Regions from separate parts of the Homo sapiens genome. Here region 2 is linked to region 1. Evidence: fine-mapped expression QTL. A gene starts in region 1. The other region holds a variant in brackets. All regions are shown on one strand. Distances are between the middles of the regions. Region 1 holds the start of RNF169 (ring finger protein 169). Region 2 overlaps SPCS2 (signal peptidase complex subunit 2).

Region 1 (8,335 bases):
AGGTCTCAGGATGGACTCAGCAGCACTTAAGCTGGAAGGAGAGGTCTTGGGCTTGCAGGAAGAAACAGCCTTGTCTCCACCTGGAACTAGGCTGAATGGCCTTGCTCATATCTGAGTCTTTCAGTCCAGCAAGGAGAAGCTGGAGCCATCAGCTAGAGGGAAGTTTTGTAGTGATGTGGATGAGGAGTGAGGAAGGGGTAGTGGTGGGGTGGAACCATGCAGAGCTATCTGGGTAGAGGTGCTATGAGAAGGATGGTAGGGAATTCTGACAGCAATGCAATCCTCAGAAAGCAGCTGGAGGGGAAGCATTGGTACCTGGGGCTGCACTGCCATTTGTTCCAGTTGGCATCGTGCATTAAAGGGAGTCTGTGAATCCTTCTTCCCATGGTGGTCTGTGGTGCAGGTGGGGCCTTAGAGAAAAGCTATTTGGGCTTGTTCTACTCTAGGCTGTTGGCTTAAGCTTCTTGTATCATTTTATAATCTACCAAGCACCCTTGACAACCATTTTTAGGCGACACTTCAAAAACAACAAGCTAATGTCTCAGTTAGAGTACTTTGATGTAAACAACAGAGACTGTGAGTCATTTAAGAAAAAATGAAATTTACTGAAAGGATACAAAGAGTTGACAGGAAAACTGCAGCATCGGATATGGAAAATGGGCTGTAACCTAGGCAGGCTCGGCAACGGGAACCACAGCCAAGTCTGTGTCTCAGGTACAGCCTGGCATGGCCACCCTCATCATGGCAGGGCCACCCCCCTCAAACCCCACCAGGGCCCCACTGCTGTTGCATACCTACTGTCTCTGTTGCTATGAATAATTCTAAAATTGTCTCTATGTTTTCATGTCACTTGCTGAAGATGCCAAGCTCAGAGAATAGTGGCCAGGTGGCTGAGCCTGGGTCATGTGTCACGTCCTAACTGTTAGGGGGCAGGGAGAAGAATATCCCTTCAGGTTCAGCTTCCCTAGCCTCATCAATACTATATAGAATGGGGAATTCCCTAAATAGAAAGGAGGTTTGGGCCAGGCACGGTAGCTCATGCCTGTAATCCCAGCACTTTGAGAGGCCGAGGCAGGTAGATCACTTGGGCTTAAGAGTTCAAGACCAGCCTGAGCAACATGGTGAAACTCTGTCTCTATAAAAAATATAAAAGTTACCTGGGTGTGGTGTTATGTGCCTGTAGTCCCAGCTACTCAGGAGGCTGCGGTGAGAGGATTGCTTGAGCCTGGGAGGCAGAGGTTGCAGTGAGCCGTGATTGCTTACTGCCCTCCAGCCTGGGCAAAAGAATGAGACCCTGTCTCAAAAAAAAAAAAAAAAAAAAAAAAAAGAGAGAAAGAAAGGAAGGAAGGAAGGAAGGAGGGAAGGAAGGAAAGAGGTTTGGATGCATTTTTGTCAGTTTTCAATTTTCATCACAATCCCAGGCTGCTAGGCTTGAAACTTTAGAATCATCCTCATTGTTATTAGCTTCCCACATAGTGAGTGGCTCTCCAGATTTCTTAGGTGTGCCTTGCTCTCTGTCACCACTATTGCTTTTAGTAAGATTACTCAGCAATGGCATAGAGGAGAGAAGAGGCTGGAAATTGGAAGTTGGACTTCTACAATGTTAGTGCTGGAATGGTCCTTTGAATTTATCTATTGTAGTGGTCTTACCTAGGAGTATTCATTAGAATTCTTATGGCACTAAAAAAAAAAATACACAGCCTGGTATCCCCCACCTGGGTTTCTGGGTTCACTAGATCTGAGGTGGGACCTTGATATATACAGGTGTTTCTGAGGTGTGTCCCAGGTTGAGAACTGATGACTTTCTTTTTTTTTTTTTTTTTTTTTTTTGTGAGCCAAAGATTTATTTCTTCATTTCTTGCATTTGAAATACTCTTCGATGACATCCTTGGCCTGAGACTCCTTGCCATAGTCCTTAACTACTACACAACTGTAACCAACCACTTTATGGGGTTTCCCCTCTCTGTCAATTTTACAGAGGCCTACCCATTCTCCTAGTTTCTTGTTGTCATCAACCTTAATTAGGTTGATTTGGTGTTCAGCACAAAGGGCCTCCACCAACTTGACATACATAGGCTCATCACAGTTGGATGCAAGCACACAAAGATGGGCTTGGCGCTTGTCTAAGACTTTGGCAGCTTCGCGAATTCCACGTGCTAGGCCATCGTGGATGAGGGCGGTCTTCAGCACCTCTTGTAAAGCAGTATTAACCTCCATTACACCTCCAGCAGCAATGCCTTCCTCGGCCATGGCAGTGGGTTACGGGTGAACCTGAATCTTGAACGCACCCAAGCCTCCGCCTCCGCGCGACTCGGCGGCAGGAGGGAAAGGGCGAGAACTGATGACTTTCAATACTCTTTTTTTTTTTCGAGATGGAGTCTTGCTCTGTCGCCCAGGCTGGAGAGCAGTGGTGCCATCTCGGCTTACTGCAACCTCCGCCTCCCGGGTTCACGCCATTCTCCTGCCTCAGCCTCCCGAGTAGCTAGGACTACAGGCGCCCGCCACCACGCCCGGCTAATTTTTTGTATTTTTAGTAGAGACGGGGTTTCACCGTGTTAGCCAGGATGGTCTTGGTCTCCTGACCTCGTGATCTGCCTGCCTCGGCCTCCCAGAGTGCTGGGATTACAGGCGTGAGCCACAGCACCAAGCCTTCAATACTCTTGTTTTAAAAATGAGGAGATTGAGGCCCAGAAGGAAGTTAGCTGTTTGAAATCACACAGTGAGTTAGAAGGGGCCAAGACCAACCCCAGATCTCCTGGCTTCTGGTCCAGTGCTACTCAGACCTCTTGCTTTTTCCCTCTGCTAAAGGAAATTTTCTATATTTATTTGTATCCAAGAAAGCATGCTATGTTTCTGTGGCTCAGCTCCTCCAACAGTAAACAGATTAAAAGATCCAAACCATCGAGAGTGAACAGCCTGCACAAATGGTCCCATTTCTAATGATGGTTGGCTTGATCTCTGGATCACAGATCTCCTTTGTCAGAATCCGGGAAAAATGTCCTCAAGAACCTTAAGTTGGGATGGAAGTGGGCAGGACCCATGGATAAAGGATAGCCTAGCCAAGGCCATACTTCTGTGTCTGGCAGGATTCTGTCTGGGTCTCTATGCAAACAGGTCTTTGTTTTAATCACCCATTGGCCTTTCTTCAACTCTTGACTGTCCTTTAGCCATCTGGTTCTTATCTTGGGAATCCATCACCTTTTTTTCCCCCTGCTCTCTGAGTTAATCAATCACTCGGCACTGGATTGGTTTACCGCTAGCTCTGGGCAATCTCATCAAAACCCAGGGCTTCTCATGCCTTCTATTATATTATGTTGATTTTTTTTTTTGAGACAATGTCTCATTCTGTTGTCCAGGTTGGAATGCAGTGGTGCCATCACGGCTCACTGCAGCCTTAACCTCATGGACTCCAGTGATCTTCCTGCCTCAGCCTCCTGAGTACAGGTGAGTGCCACCATGCCCAGCTAATTTCTGTATTTTTTGTAGAGATGGGGTTTCACCATGTTGCCCAGGCTGGTCTTTAACTCCTGAGCTCAAGCGATCTGCCTGCCTCATCCTCCCAAAGTGCAGGCGTGAGCCACCGCCCCCAGCCTATGTTGCTTTTTTATTTTTCTCTCTTTACAAAACTCGTGTTATCCTATAAAGGTTTCCACTAAGAAATGCCATTTATTTAATGCTTCCCATTCTTTGCCCTGCTCCAAATCTATCCCAGGGCAAAGAAAGCAAAGAATGGGAGAACTACTGTAGCAGAACCACCTTTCCATTAGAGAGGGGTCATTCTTTCTCCTGGAACCTCTGCATCTAGAAAGGGCACTAGCATCAAAGTCCAAGCACCTCTCCCTAGCTCAAGCAGGAGTGACACGGTCAGAGCTGGCCTATAGGAAGCAACTCGAAGAGTGTGGAGGATGGATTAGAAAAGAGGTTGGGAGAGGGGAGACAATCAATCTATAGCAGCTACTGCAGTAATCTAGATGAGAGATGATTAGACCTGAATTGGGCAGTGGGAATGGGATGAAGAGGTGGGGAAATAGTCATTTTGATAGTGGAATTGACAGGACTAAATAACTGATGGTTTGTGGGAGATAAGGAAGAAGTTCAAGATGACTAGGTTTGGAGCTTGAGTACCTGGGAGGATGGGACCTTTCATAGAATGAAGGAAATAAGAAGAGCAGTTTTGAAAGGAGGATGGGAGACAGTGACATTAGTTTTGTACATGAGGAATGTAGGGATCTAAGAGGATGTTTCCATCAGGCAGTTGAATATGGAGGGCTGGACTCAGGAGGCCTGGGCTGCAGACAGCAATCTGGGAGCTCCTGAGGGAAGAAAATGTGGACCAGTGCAGCACGCAGAGTGAGAAGGGGACTGAGGCCTAAGCCTAGAGGAACACCCACATGGAAGCACCAAACACGGGAGACTGAGAAGGAGCCAAGAGCCTGGGAAAAAAACCAGGAAAGTGTGGTTTTACCAGCCAAGGGGGGCAGTTTCAGGAAGGGACATGGGGAGAGAGGATGAGGAGGTAGGATTGACAAGAGGCTGCTCCTTTTGGCAGTTAGTTACCACGGTGGGCCTGGTTTCAGTCACAAAGCTACCCCCATCCTTAGGAGAGAGCTCAGGCCCTCATATCAAATGAACACTAAGGCAGGTTTCTGAGTAACTCACATATTCCCCACTCACTTTCTCCTCAGTTATCAAGGCATTACAGGATAAGTACGTGTATCAAAGTTTAACATCGTTCAGAATTGCCAGTAAAGCCCCTCAGTTCCCACCTCTTTCAGTTCAGTAAGAGGAAACTGCAAGGACTTTTCGAGAGTGCGGCTGATGACCGCATAATAAAGAATAACTAATAAATATTAATGAAGTATCCCCTCTGGCCAATCAGGTCTGAGGAGAACCCTCTTTGGGCTCACAGAAGCCTCGCCCCTCATGAATATGTAGATAGCACTGCCCACCGCGCGTACTGCCCCGCCCTCCACTCTTCTCCCTCGCAACCGACTCTCCCTTCAAACGGGAAACAAGATGGCGGCTGCAGGTCCGAGTACTCGGGCCTCTTCCGCGGCGGCAGCAGCCGCTCTGAGTCGGCGGGGCCGGCGGGGCCGCTGTGACGAGACGGCGGCAGCTAAGACTGGGGCCCCAGGCCCGGCTTCTGGACCTTCGCTGTTGGTGTTGTCGCCGCCGTTGCTGCAGCCGCCGCTGCCGCCGCGGCCGGAGGAATCGGGCTGCGCCGGGTGCCTGGAGCCCCCCGGAGAAGCAGCGGCCCTGCCGTGCGGCCACTCGCTTTGCCGAGGCTGCGCCCAACGCGCCGCCGACGCGGCGGGCCCGGGTTGCCCTCGCTGCCGCGCCCGCGGCCCAGGCTGGGCCCGCCGTCGGGCCCGCGACGACGGCCAGGCCGACTCAGAGGTGCTGGGCGAGTGCGCCCGCCGCAGCCAACCCGAGCGCTGCCGCCCGCGCCGGGACGGGGGCGCGGCTGCCGCGGGGCCCAGGCCAGAGCAGGAGCCGCGTGCCGCGCCTGCGGAGCCAGGTGGAGCTTCCCCACTTCCCCTTAGGGTCTGGAGCGAGGCCGAGCGCGCCCCGGCCCGGCCTGGTGAGGGGGTGGAGAGTCCCGGGCCCTACTCGGGCGGGTGTGGAGAGTTCTCGTGGGATTAGAACCCGGGCTCTACCCAGGTGCAGTGTGTTTGTGAATTTTGAACTTCAGAGTGAAGGACAGGCACGTTGCATGCGGAGGGGCGGTGAGGGCACCCTGTGCCTTACGTAAGTCCGAAGTTTGGAGGGAAACAGAATTGTTGGAACAAGTTAGGGGCAGGTTGGAATTGGTGTGTGGGAGTGGGAGGGGCCTTGGATCAGAGAAGTGCTTGGTTTAATGTTGGATGAAGAGTTTGGGGGTCATATTGCTTGGAGAGATGTGGCTCCTGGCCTTGAAAGGGTCAGTGAAGGGTGTGGAGAATCCGGAGTTTAGGGAACAGGTTGAATTTGAGGATGTGAAGGGAGCTTTTCAGACTCGAGAGCAGAGGGGGTTGGGAGCACACTTGTGCAGTTGTTTTCATACATTTTGGAAAATGTATGCTTAGCACAGAACTTGGCACATAGTGAGGAAGCAGTAAGTGACTGTCGTTTATATTTGTAATACTAGTACTACTAAGTCCAGTAGTGCCTGACAGAAAAGCTGGCTTGGGTTTAAAAGTTTTGGAAACAAAGGTTGGGTGGCAGGGGCTGCTTCTATCTCCTTGGCAGTATGGGTTTCCTACTGGCTTGCTGGCAATTAAAAGTCTGTTGTAGGACTCTTGCCTTGAACTTCTTTCCCCTAACACCAGCAGCCTGCTATTCCTCGGTTCTGAGCTTTGAAATGCAAAGTGCCCTGTATAAAATAAGACTGTTATAACTTAGGATTCTTTTGGGGACACACCCAGTCAACATAACATCTGCAGCTCTGTTTGATAAAAAATGCTTACCTAGAATGAGATTTTCAAGAAACATAAATCACGAAAGGCCAGATATTTGTACCTTCTGTTTTGGGAATTCTGCCATGTGTTTTTTTGGGTAAGGAAAGAGAGGCATTGCTTGTGTATACAAGTGCAGCTTCTAGAAACCACAGGTTCTAGAATGCACTCTGTTTTGATTCAAGCCGCCAGAGACACCTGTCACTGTCCTAGGATATTGGGCTATTTTATTCCTGGGGTTGAGGGGGACCTGCATCTTACTTTCTATGTTCCTTGTCACTCCCCTCACCTTTTTTTTTTTTTTTTTTTTTTTTTTTGAGATGGAGTCTCGCACTGTCGCCCGGGCTGGAGTGTAATGGTGCGATCTCCACTCACTGCAGCCTCTGTGCACCACCCCTTCAGGTTCAAGCGATTCTCCTGCCGCAGCCTCCCGAGTAGCTGGGATTACAGGCGCCCACCACCACGCCCGGCTTTTTTGTATTTTTAGTACAGATGAGGTTTCACTGTGTTGGCCAGGCTGGTCTTGAACTCCTGACCTTGTGATCCGCCCGCCTTGGCCTCCCAAGGTTTTTTTTTTTTTTTTTTTTTTTTTTGAGACTGAGTCTCACTCTGTCTCCCAGGCTGGAGTGCAGTGGCCAATCTCTCAGCTGACTGCAACCTCTGCCTCCCAGGTTCAAGCGATTCTCCTGCCTCCGCCCAGTAGCTGGGACCACAGGCACGCGCCACCACACCCTGCTAATTTTTGTAATTTTAGTAGAGACGGGGTTTCGCCATGTTGGCCAGACTGGTTTCGAACCCCTGGCGTCAAGTGATCCGCCCACCTCTGCCTCCTGAAGTGTTGGGATTACAGGCGTGAGCCACTGTGCTCAGCCCTCGTTATTCCTTTTAAGCTTCACAACATCCCTATGAGATAAGTACTTTTATTTCCATTTTATAGATGAAACTGAGGTCCAGAGAGGTTAACTAACTTGCCTAAGGATGAAAACCCGATTCTATCCTATTCCTGCTCAAATCAGGGATGAAACGTCTTTAATTTTGTGGATGTGGTGTGATGGTTTCATATGCTACTTAATTTGCTTTATAGTCTGAGATTATGGTCACGATATAAGACAGTATTTCTCTGGTCTCCCTATTAGTACTACTGATTATATGGCCACATAGGATAGAAATTTTCATTTTGATTTCTAAGCTTGGAGACTGTTGTGAAATACCAGTTCTGAATTTGAACCATGAGAGGAAGTTTGGCTTGATGATTTGTGCAAACTTTTTCCCTTGAAGATGTTTTTGTCATAAAATTTATCAGTGATTAAGGGAAATTATCTAAAATGAGATTTCAAATTAGAATCTATTGAGTCACTTAGTATTCATTAATTACTTTATATGTTTATATGAGGACCAAAATGAAAAATGGTTTTCTTAAATGTTCTTGTTGTTGGATTGTTTTGTATATACAGTTATGTGCTTATTCAGTTGAAAAATTTTAGAATACAAAAATATTGCCAAAAGGCTTAGGAAGTATCTCTTAGCTTCAGTGGGTTGTCTGATCCTCTTGTAGTTATATACAGTATTTTTAAATTAAAATTTTTAATAGGCAGTGCATTCACAGGATTCAAACAAAAATGTAACAAAGTATACAATGAAAAGATTCCCTTTGGCCAGGCGCGGTGGCTCACCCCTGTAATCCCAGCACTTTGGGAGGCCGAGGTGGGCGGATCACAAGGTCAAGAGATGGAGACCAGTCTGGCCAACATGGTGAAACCCCGTCTCTACTAAAAATACAAAAATTAGCTGGGCATGGTGGTGTGTGCCTGTAGTCCCAGCTACTTGGGAGACTGAGACAGGAGAATCTCTTGAACCCAGGAGGCGGAGGTTGCAGTGAGCCAAGATTGCACCGCTGCACT
Region 2 (8,335 bases), 220 kb after region 1:
TGCCTGTCATCCTTGTGCTAGGGCCATGCTAACCTCTGTATCGTTCTAATTTTAGTATATGTGCTGCCGAAGCGAGCACTGTTCATGAAATTTATTTTTATTTTATTTATTTTATTTTTATTTTTTGATACAGGGTCTCACTCTGTTGCCCAGGCTGGAGTGCAGTGGCACGATCTTGCCTCACTATAGCCTCTGCCTCCCAGGTTCAAGTGATTCTCCTGCCTCAGCCACACAAGTAGCTGGGATTACGGGCCTGCACCACTACATCCAGCTAATTTTTTTTTGGTTTTTGTGGGTTTTTTTTGTTTTTTTTTTTTTTTGAGACAGAGTCTTGCTGTGTCACACAGGCTGGAGCACAGTGGCACGATCTCGGCTCACTGCAACCCTGCAACCTCTGCTTCCTGGGTTCAAGCCATTCTCATGCCTCAGCCTCCTGAGTAGCAGGACTACAGGCATGTACCACCATGCCCAGCTAATTTTTGTATTTTTGGTAGAGACATGGGGTTTCACCATGTTGGCCAGGCTCATCTCGAACTCCTGACCTCAAGTGATCTGCCCACCTCAGCCTCCCAAAGTGCTGGGATTACAGGTGTGAGCCACCACGCCTAGCCTTAATTTTTGTATTTTTAGTAGAAATGGGGTCTCCCATTGTTCCTTGTTGGCCAGGCTGGTTTCAAACTCCAGGTCTCAAGCAATCCACCTGCCTCGGCCTCCCAGAGTGCTGGTATTAAAGGTGTGAGCCATCGTGCCCAGCCTTGTTTATGAAATTTAAATGGCACAGTATACACAAAGCTCTTATGCCAGTTTTTGGCAAACTATAAGTGCTTATTAACTATGGTACTTAATACTGTCAAAAACAATATAATAATAAGTCTATATGCATATAGGAAGTAATCGTAGTACTATTTGACATACTCTCTTATAGTAAACTATTTGGGTCACTTTTCTTCTCTTAATAACCCTTAAAATCAGTTGAACATGGTCAAGTCCACTGGGACTATTCGTTGTTTTTTATAAAGAAATAAGCACTATTATAACAAAGTCTTGACAAACTAGGTATCTTATTATACATGTTGTCTTTGAACATAAAGATGAGAGCTAGTTTATGCTCTGTATCTTTTTCTTTTCTTCCTTTCTGAGGTGTTTGCAGAATTAACCAGAGAGAGCCTTGCTTCTCTTGGTATATAAACATAAGGATGAAAATGAAATAGCTAAATTTTCAGTGTTTTGGCAGCAAGACAAAGCTGTCTTCTTTAGGACTATCATTATGAAAGTTTTTATATCTGTTGCTTGTCAATTTGTGTTACTTCTCTTTTATGTTTGGGTATTTTCCCCTTAACTTTATTTGAACCTATTTTGTGATGATGGGGATTCTGACCATTTATACCTCATATAAGGAGAAGAGCATCTTTCTCGTGGCCCACAGGAAAGATCCTACAGGAATGGATCCTGATGATATTTGGCAGCTGTCCTCCAGTCTTAAAAGGTATGACTATCCTCACAGATTTTTAAATCCTGGTGTTGGATTTGCCCTGGCATGTTGTCATTATCAACAGAAGACTTATTATGTGCCTACTCTATGTGGATCATAGGGCTAGTCATATAAAATGAAGAAAGGAGTATGGATGATCTAGAAGGTTTGTCCTAGCCCTATAGTTCTGAGATTGCGTTATCACAGAAATGCTCTGAGGATAAACTGTGGGAGAAGGTACTTTTTCCTGTGGCCAGTTAACAGAGACGATTAAGCATACAAAAGTATAAAGGCCAAAGATGTGAGATCAGTTATCTTTGAAGAATTCCATTAGCTTCTGTGTCTTCTATGATCCTGTCTTCTCTCCACGAATACAATCAAGAATATCTGGAGCAGTGCACTGGGCAACTCAAAAAAAGCACAATCTAGAGTCTGTTTCTGACCAGTGTCAGGTATAACTTTGTGCAGCTGACACACATGTGTTTTGTAGGTACCAAGAACTAGGTTCATGTTCCAATTCAGTTTCTTTCTAGCTGTATAACTTTGGGTAAATCATATAAATTATCTGAGGTTTAGTGGGGTCAAAAATGATGCCTAGAGTTTCTGGGAAGATGAAATACCAATTATAATAATAGCAAATGTTTATTGAACATTTACTGTATGTTGGGTATTCTGCTAAATGCATTATCTCATTAAGTTTTAGAACACTCATTTTATAGATAAGAATACAGGCCCAAAGTTTAAATCAACTCTTCCAGTATCATATAGCCCAAAAGTGGTAGAGCAGGAATTCCAGCCCAAGTTTGAAACCAGAATTCATACTCGTAGTCACTATCTTAAAAACCTATTATACTTAACTGGTGCATAATAGCCGCACAAATTATAGGTACAATTATTTATATATGAAGTTAAGTGTAGCATCTGTGCCATACAGACTGTCTCATTGCCAACTTGTAGAAGCGCCTATGAGAAAGGGAAGCAGACCTTCATTCTGTTGTTGCAGCTGAGTTCTTGCTTATCTCCTGACAGGGCTTCTAGCTGCCCTTTGGCCTCAGCCATCATAATCTGCATCCTCTACCAGGCCACTGAAGCTGAGTTGCAGAATTCTAAAACCTAGCGGCATTATAATTTCATTATTTTTATTCTGACTTTTGTATTTTTTAAGAACTTTTATATAATTCACCTACCATACATACAGTTCACCCATTTAAAGTGTACAGTTCAAAAGTACCTAGTAGTATTTACAGATATTTGCAACCATTATCACAGTCAATTTTAGAGCATTTTCATCACCTCAAAAAAAAAACCTCTGTACTCTAGCTAATCACTTCCCTATCCTCCCACTTGCCTGAGCCCTGGGCAACCACCAGTCTACTTTCTCTGTTCTCTTTTATGGACATTTCATATGAATGGAATCATACAATATGTGGTCTTTTATAACTGGGTTCTTTCACTTAGTGCAATTACTTCCTATGTATACTGCACACAAGGTTCGTTCATGTTGTAGCATGTATCAGTACTTCATTCCTTTCTATGGTCAAGTAACATTCCATTTTGTTTATCCATTTGTTGACAGACATTTGGGTTGTTTCTACTTTTTGGCTATTATGAATAATGTTGCTATACATATTTGTGTACATGTTTTTAGGTAGACATGTTTTCATTTCTCTTGGGTAATACACCTGGGAGAAGACTTGTATGGTATGCTAACTCTCTTTGTTTGATGAACTGCCAGACTGTTGTCCAAAGTGGCTGCCCTATTTTACAATCTCACTAGCAGTGTACAAGGGTTCTGATTTTTTTCACGTTTCCTGCTGATTTTTACCAACTGCCGTATTGTTGGTGGAGTGGAATGTGAATGTTCTTGCTCTCTTCCCGGCTTTCTGCTGATGTCTTCTCCCTCCCCCACCTCACCGACTGATTTAGTAGCTTAACAGTGGCTGATTCTGATGTCTTATTCCCACTGCCAGGTCATGTGATGTGAAAATGGCAATGAAAGGTTTCACAGACTACTAGTTGCCACGTGCAGACAACACAAGCTATGTGACTCTCTCGCAAAAAGTGATTTTGTCACTCCCCAGCAAATTCATTATACAGTCTAAACTCCTTCAGCATATGAAGTATTACAGCATTCATCCCCTAGTGACATCTCCAGCTTTCTTTTATGCCCCTCTCAAAATACATTCTCTTACTCTGGCAATATTATGGAATTTGCAATATGCTAAGTTATCCAAGTTTCCAGTGACCCCGTACCTTTAAACATATTCTTCTCTCTGGCTTAGCTATCTTTCTGTAACCTGGCTCACTCCTACTTCCAAGAAGCCTTCCCTGACATACCTTAGTCTTCCTTAACATGCCTTAGTCTAAATTAGGTGGTCCTAGTTATTCTTTTTTTTTTTGAGATGGAGTTTCACTCTTGTCACCCAGGCTGGAGCGCAATGACGCGATCTTGGCTCACTGCAACCTCCTCATCCGGCTTCAAGTGATTCTCCTGCCTCAGCCTCCTGAGTAGCTGGGATTACGGACCCACGACCACACCCGGCTAATTTTTGTATTTTTTGTAGAGATGGGGTTTCACCATGTTGGCCAGGCTGGACTTGAACTCGTGACCTCAAGTGATCGCCTAGCCTTGGCCTCCCAAAGTGGTGGGATTACAGGTGTGAGCCACCACGCCCAGCCCATCCTAGTTATTCTTAAAAGCATTTATGCTTACCTCTGTTAGTTACCACATGGAGCTATAATTATTTAATATCTGTGTCTCCTCCTGGGCCCGCCCCCTCCTCCAAAGTGTGAGCTCCTTTACCATTCACTATACAGTAGAAACCTAAGCCCAGGTGGGACTTTCTCACTCACCCCTTGGTAACCAGACCCAGCCCAGGGCCTGGCGTGGCATGTTTTGTTATGTGAATGATTGACATTCATCTGGGCTGGGCTGCAGCCTTGACCTCCTAATTAGTCTTTGCCTGCAGCCCAGTCATTGTCAGCCATCCACAAAGTCCCCTATAACCTAGCCATCTCTATGAACATTCCCTTCTCTTTTTTTTTTTTTTAAACAACAAATTGGATCCACTGAAACTTTTATTTAACTTTGTAATATGAACATTTACCATATAAGGTTATAAGACAATATAAAATCTATCTCATTTCATTTATAGCATAGCTATAAATCAATCTAATCTCTCTTATTAATGTTTTATATATATATATATATTTTTTTTTTTCCTGCATACTTAGGCAATATTTTCCCCAAGGGATATATCATTCTCAGTAAACTACCGCAAGAACAAAAAACCAAACATCGCATATTCTCACTCATAGGTGGGAATTGAACAATGAGATCACATGGACACAGGAAGGGGAACATCCCTTCTCTTTCTTACCCTAAGTGAAACCTGACC[A/G]TAACCTCTGAGGACATATTTCCACTGCAGACTGCAAGTGGTGGCTGATGTTTCTCTCACAGCCTTCATTACTCCGGTACTACAGGTAGAGATGGGTCTCTCCTTTGCAGCTTCCAATGCGTCCTCTTCCCTAAAATCCCCCCTTTGAATGCATGTCATCACATTGTGCCACTTCTATGCCTCTTCTTTGCGGTTAAACACACACCTAGTCTTTTGAAGATAATTCCTGGCTCATTGGCACTCTCTCTAACATTTGTCCTTTCTTAAGTCTTGGTGATTGCCATATTCACATAGATGGTTATTCTAGTAACTTGGCCTCTCAGTTTTACTTCCTTTCTTCCCATTATCCTGTTTTCTATCATGCCTTAAACATTTATTTTCATAGACATACCCTAGTAGACCTTGCAATTAATAAGAACAAATTACCTGCAATAATTTCAGTTTTAAGTATCCCACCCTGACCATTGCTTCCTGTTACTCTCATTTATTTCCTTCTAGTTCTCTTGTCACGGCATTTCTTCTGCCCCAGTGGCATCTGTAACCCACTTCACTTCCTCCTTACCTGGCTTAGATTCCATGACACTTCTGTAGTCCAGTTACTCTCTCCCTGTCCTGGAGGATCTTTCATATCTTCCCTGTCCTCAAACCTGCTAGGCCTCCTCCCCCATCTTTACTCTCGGTTTTTTGTTGTTGGGAAGATAGAAGCCATCATAAGTCTACCATCACTACTCACCTACTTCCAAGTACCTATCTAAGGCCTTCCCTCCCTTGGGTCTATGGGATTCTATCTCTTCTCTCTTACTTGATGTTTTCCTCTCTGCTGGATCATTCCTTCTGACATACAAATATACTGTAATTTCTCCCAACTGAAAAAAAAAAAGGTTTTCTTTCCCCTTCTGCTTCTCACACAGTCTCCTCATTTCTCTGCTCTCCTTTTCTTCTTGTGCTATCACCTGGATCTGCTCTTGTCTCCTTTACTTGACCTGTCAGCAGCATTTGACATAGCTAATTACCCTTACTTTGTAATACTTTTTTTTTTTAACTAGGCTTCTCAGATACCACACACTTCTAATTTTCTTCTTACCTTAATGTTTGTTCCTCAGTCTCCTTTGTGATTCTTCATCTCCCATTTTTTTACATTTGAAATGCCACCAGGGCTTGTTCTGGAACCTCTTCTCTATGATGAAGATCTCTAAATTTGTATTTTCATCCTTGACCTCTTCTCTGAACTCTAAATATATTCTGGCATTCTTTTTGATGTTGGATCCTAATAGGCATCTCAAAGTCAACAGGTCCAAAACCTAACTCATCTCTCACTCATCCAAACCTGCCCTTCCCTCAGTTTTTCCCACTTCAATAAATGGCAGTGCTGTCCTTACAGAGCTCTGGAGTCATTTTGACTCCTCTTTCTCAGTCCTTCTTTAGTCTGTCAGCAAATCCTGTTAGCTCCACCATCTAAATGTATTGTCCAACCATTTACCATCTCCACAGCTACCATCCTCTCTCACATATGTTACTGTAATGATGTTCTTTTTTTGTTTTGTTTTTTTGAGACAGAGTCTCACACTTTCATCTAGGCTGGAGTGCAGTGGCGCGATCTCGGCTCGCTGCAAGCTCCGCCTCCTGGGTTCACACCATTCTCCTGCCTCAGCCTCCCAAATAGCTGGGACTACAGGCACCAGCCACCACGTCTGGCTAATTTTTTGTATTTTTAGTAGAGACGGGGTTTCACCATGTTAGCCAGGATGGTCTGGATCTCCTGACCTCGTGATCTGCCCGCCTTGGCCTCCCAAAGTGCTGGGATTATAGGTATGAGCCACGGCACCCGGCCCACTGTAATGATGTTGTAATGGACTTCTGCAGCCCTCTCTCCACCCATAGTCTATTCCCAGGACAGCAAGCAAAGTGATCCTTTTGAAACATAAGTCAGATCAACTCAGTCTTTTGCTCAAAACTCTCTCAGAGAAATTGCCAAAATCCTAAGGATGGCTTAGAAGTCCATACATGTCTATTCTCTGCACTCCACACACCGATGCAAACATACCCTCATCTCCTTGGCTCTCATCCTCTCCCACTTCATTCTGTTCACATTAGGCCCCTTTCTGTTCTTAAGACATTTCAGGGATGTTCTTGCCTCAGGGCCTTTGCACTTGCTGTTCCTTTTTCCTGGAACATTCTTTTTCCAGATAGCTTATTCTCTTACCTTTCTTGTCTCTGCTCAGACATCTGCTTAGTGAAGGCTTTTCTGCCCATCTATTTAAGAGAACATCTTCTTTTTTTATACTGTCTGTTCCCTCACACACACTAAAATGAAAGTCCCAAAAGGCAGACATTTATATTATGTTCACTGCCGTATATCCTTACCATCTAAAACTGCCTGTCACATATAGGTAGGCTCAGTAAATATCTGAATTAATGAACATTTCTAAAATGTATCAGGTCACAACTCATCAGATCATGGACTGCCACCAAAGCCATGTAACTGCCAATAAAACTGGGCACAGAAGTCTAAAAATTACTGTGATATCAATTAGCAGTTGGTCAGAACTTGAGAAAATATTTTGAGGTGTTGAAAATAGTTAAAGGAACTTCACTACTAGCTCTCCAAGTTGGGAGTTACTGCCTAGACCAACAATTATTGAGGAGCTGTGACCTTTTGAGCACTAGTTAATGATAGACACTGTTTTAGTCATGACAGTAATCCTGAAAGCAGGTGGAAGTTCTCCCATTTTAAACATGCAGAAATAGAGCCTCAAGAAACTGCTTCATTTAAAGATAATACTAGCTTGACAATCCACTGAATATGTCCTAATAAATGGAAACAGGGTGGGGGATGTCAGCCTACCAGTAATTGGTGTCATTAAACCCTCTTGAATGAATGGACATAGTAATGGCCTTCAGGGTACCTTGAAGTATAGCTAAAGGAATCTCTGGAGTTCATTTAGTAAAGCAGTTGGCATCCCTGGCCTGGGATCAGAGTAAAACCTGGAGCTAGATTGATTACAGAGTGCAAGGACTAGGCACCCCGGGATTGGAGAGCATCCTTGAAAGCAAGGGTTCTTCATTTATTTATAAAAATTTGATTGCCTACTAGAAGCCCAGCTAAGAGTATGAAGCAATTAAGACAACAATCTTTGCTCAAGAATCTCCTAGACAATCCTGATTCAAGCACCAGAAACAAAGGGAAAAGAAACCTCCCAGTCTAGTGAAGAAAGTAGTACACATCATGTCAACAGATAGGTAATTTTGTTGATACCATAAGAGCCTATTATTAGGCCTGGCATATGACAGGAGGTCAGTATTTGAGTTGAGTATTGATTGATGGTACTGTGGAAGACAGAGGAAACACATCTGACCCAGATTGGTAGGCTTTCCCAGAAAAGTTTATGCCCAAGTATAGTGTTAACAAATAAGAACTTCTCAGGTGAGATAGGGGAGAAGAGTCTGCGAGGAAAACCTGTCTAGC

The links.
Region 2: its variant is fine-mapped to the expression of RNF169 in whole blood (INTERVAL, PIP 0.97).

Annotation. Positions count from the first base shown.
Region 1 is chr11:74,743,865-74,752,199 of GRCh38, forward strand. It overlaps RNF169 (ring finger protein 169), which reads left to right and starts at 4,985. Exons shown (of 6, transcript NM_001098638.2): 1 at 4,985-5,518. The coding sequence starts at 5,017. It also overlaps the pseudogene RPS12P22. RefSeq lists silencers at 4,816-5,036, 5,210-5,359, 5,390-5,649, 5,660-5,759 and enhancers at 5,010-5,099, 5,249-5,842.
Region 2 is chr11:74,968,214-74,976,548 of GRCh38, forward strand. It overlaps SPCS2 (signal peptidase complex subunit 2), which reads left to right. Exons shown (of 5, transcript NM_014752.3): 4 at 1,352-1,486. It also overlaps the pseudogene RNU6-216P. Among named protein-coding and RNA genes, the nearest start is that of NEU3, 17 kb to the right of the region's middle. The variant A/G (reference allele first, on the strand shown) is at 4,870.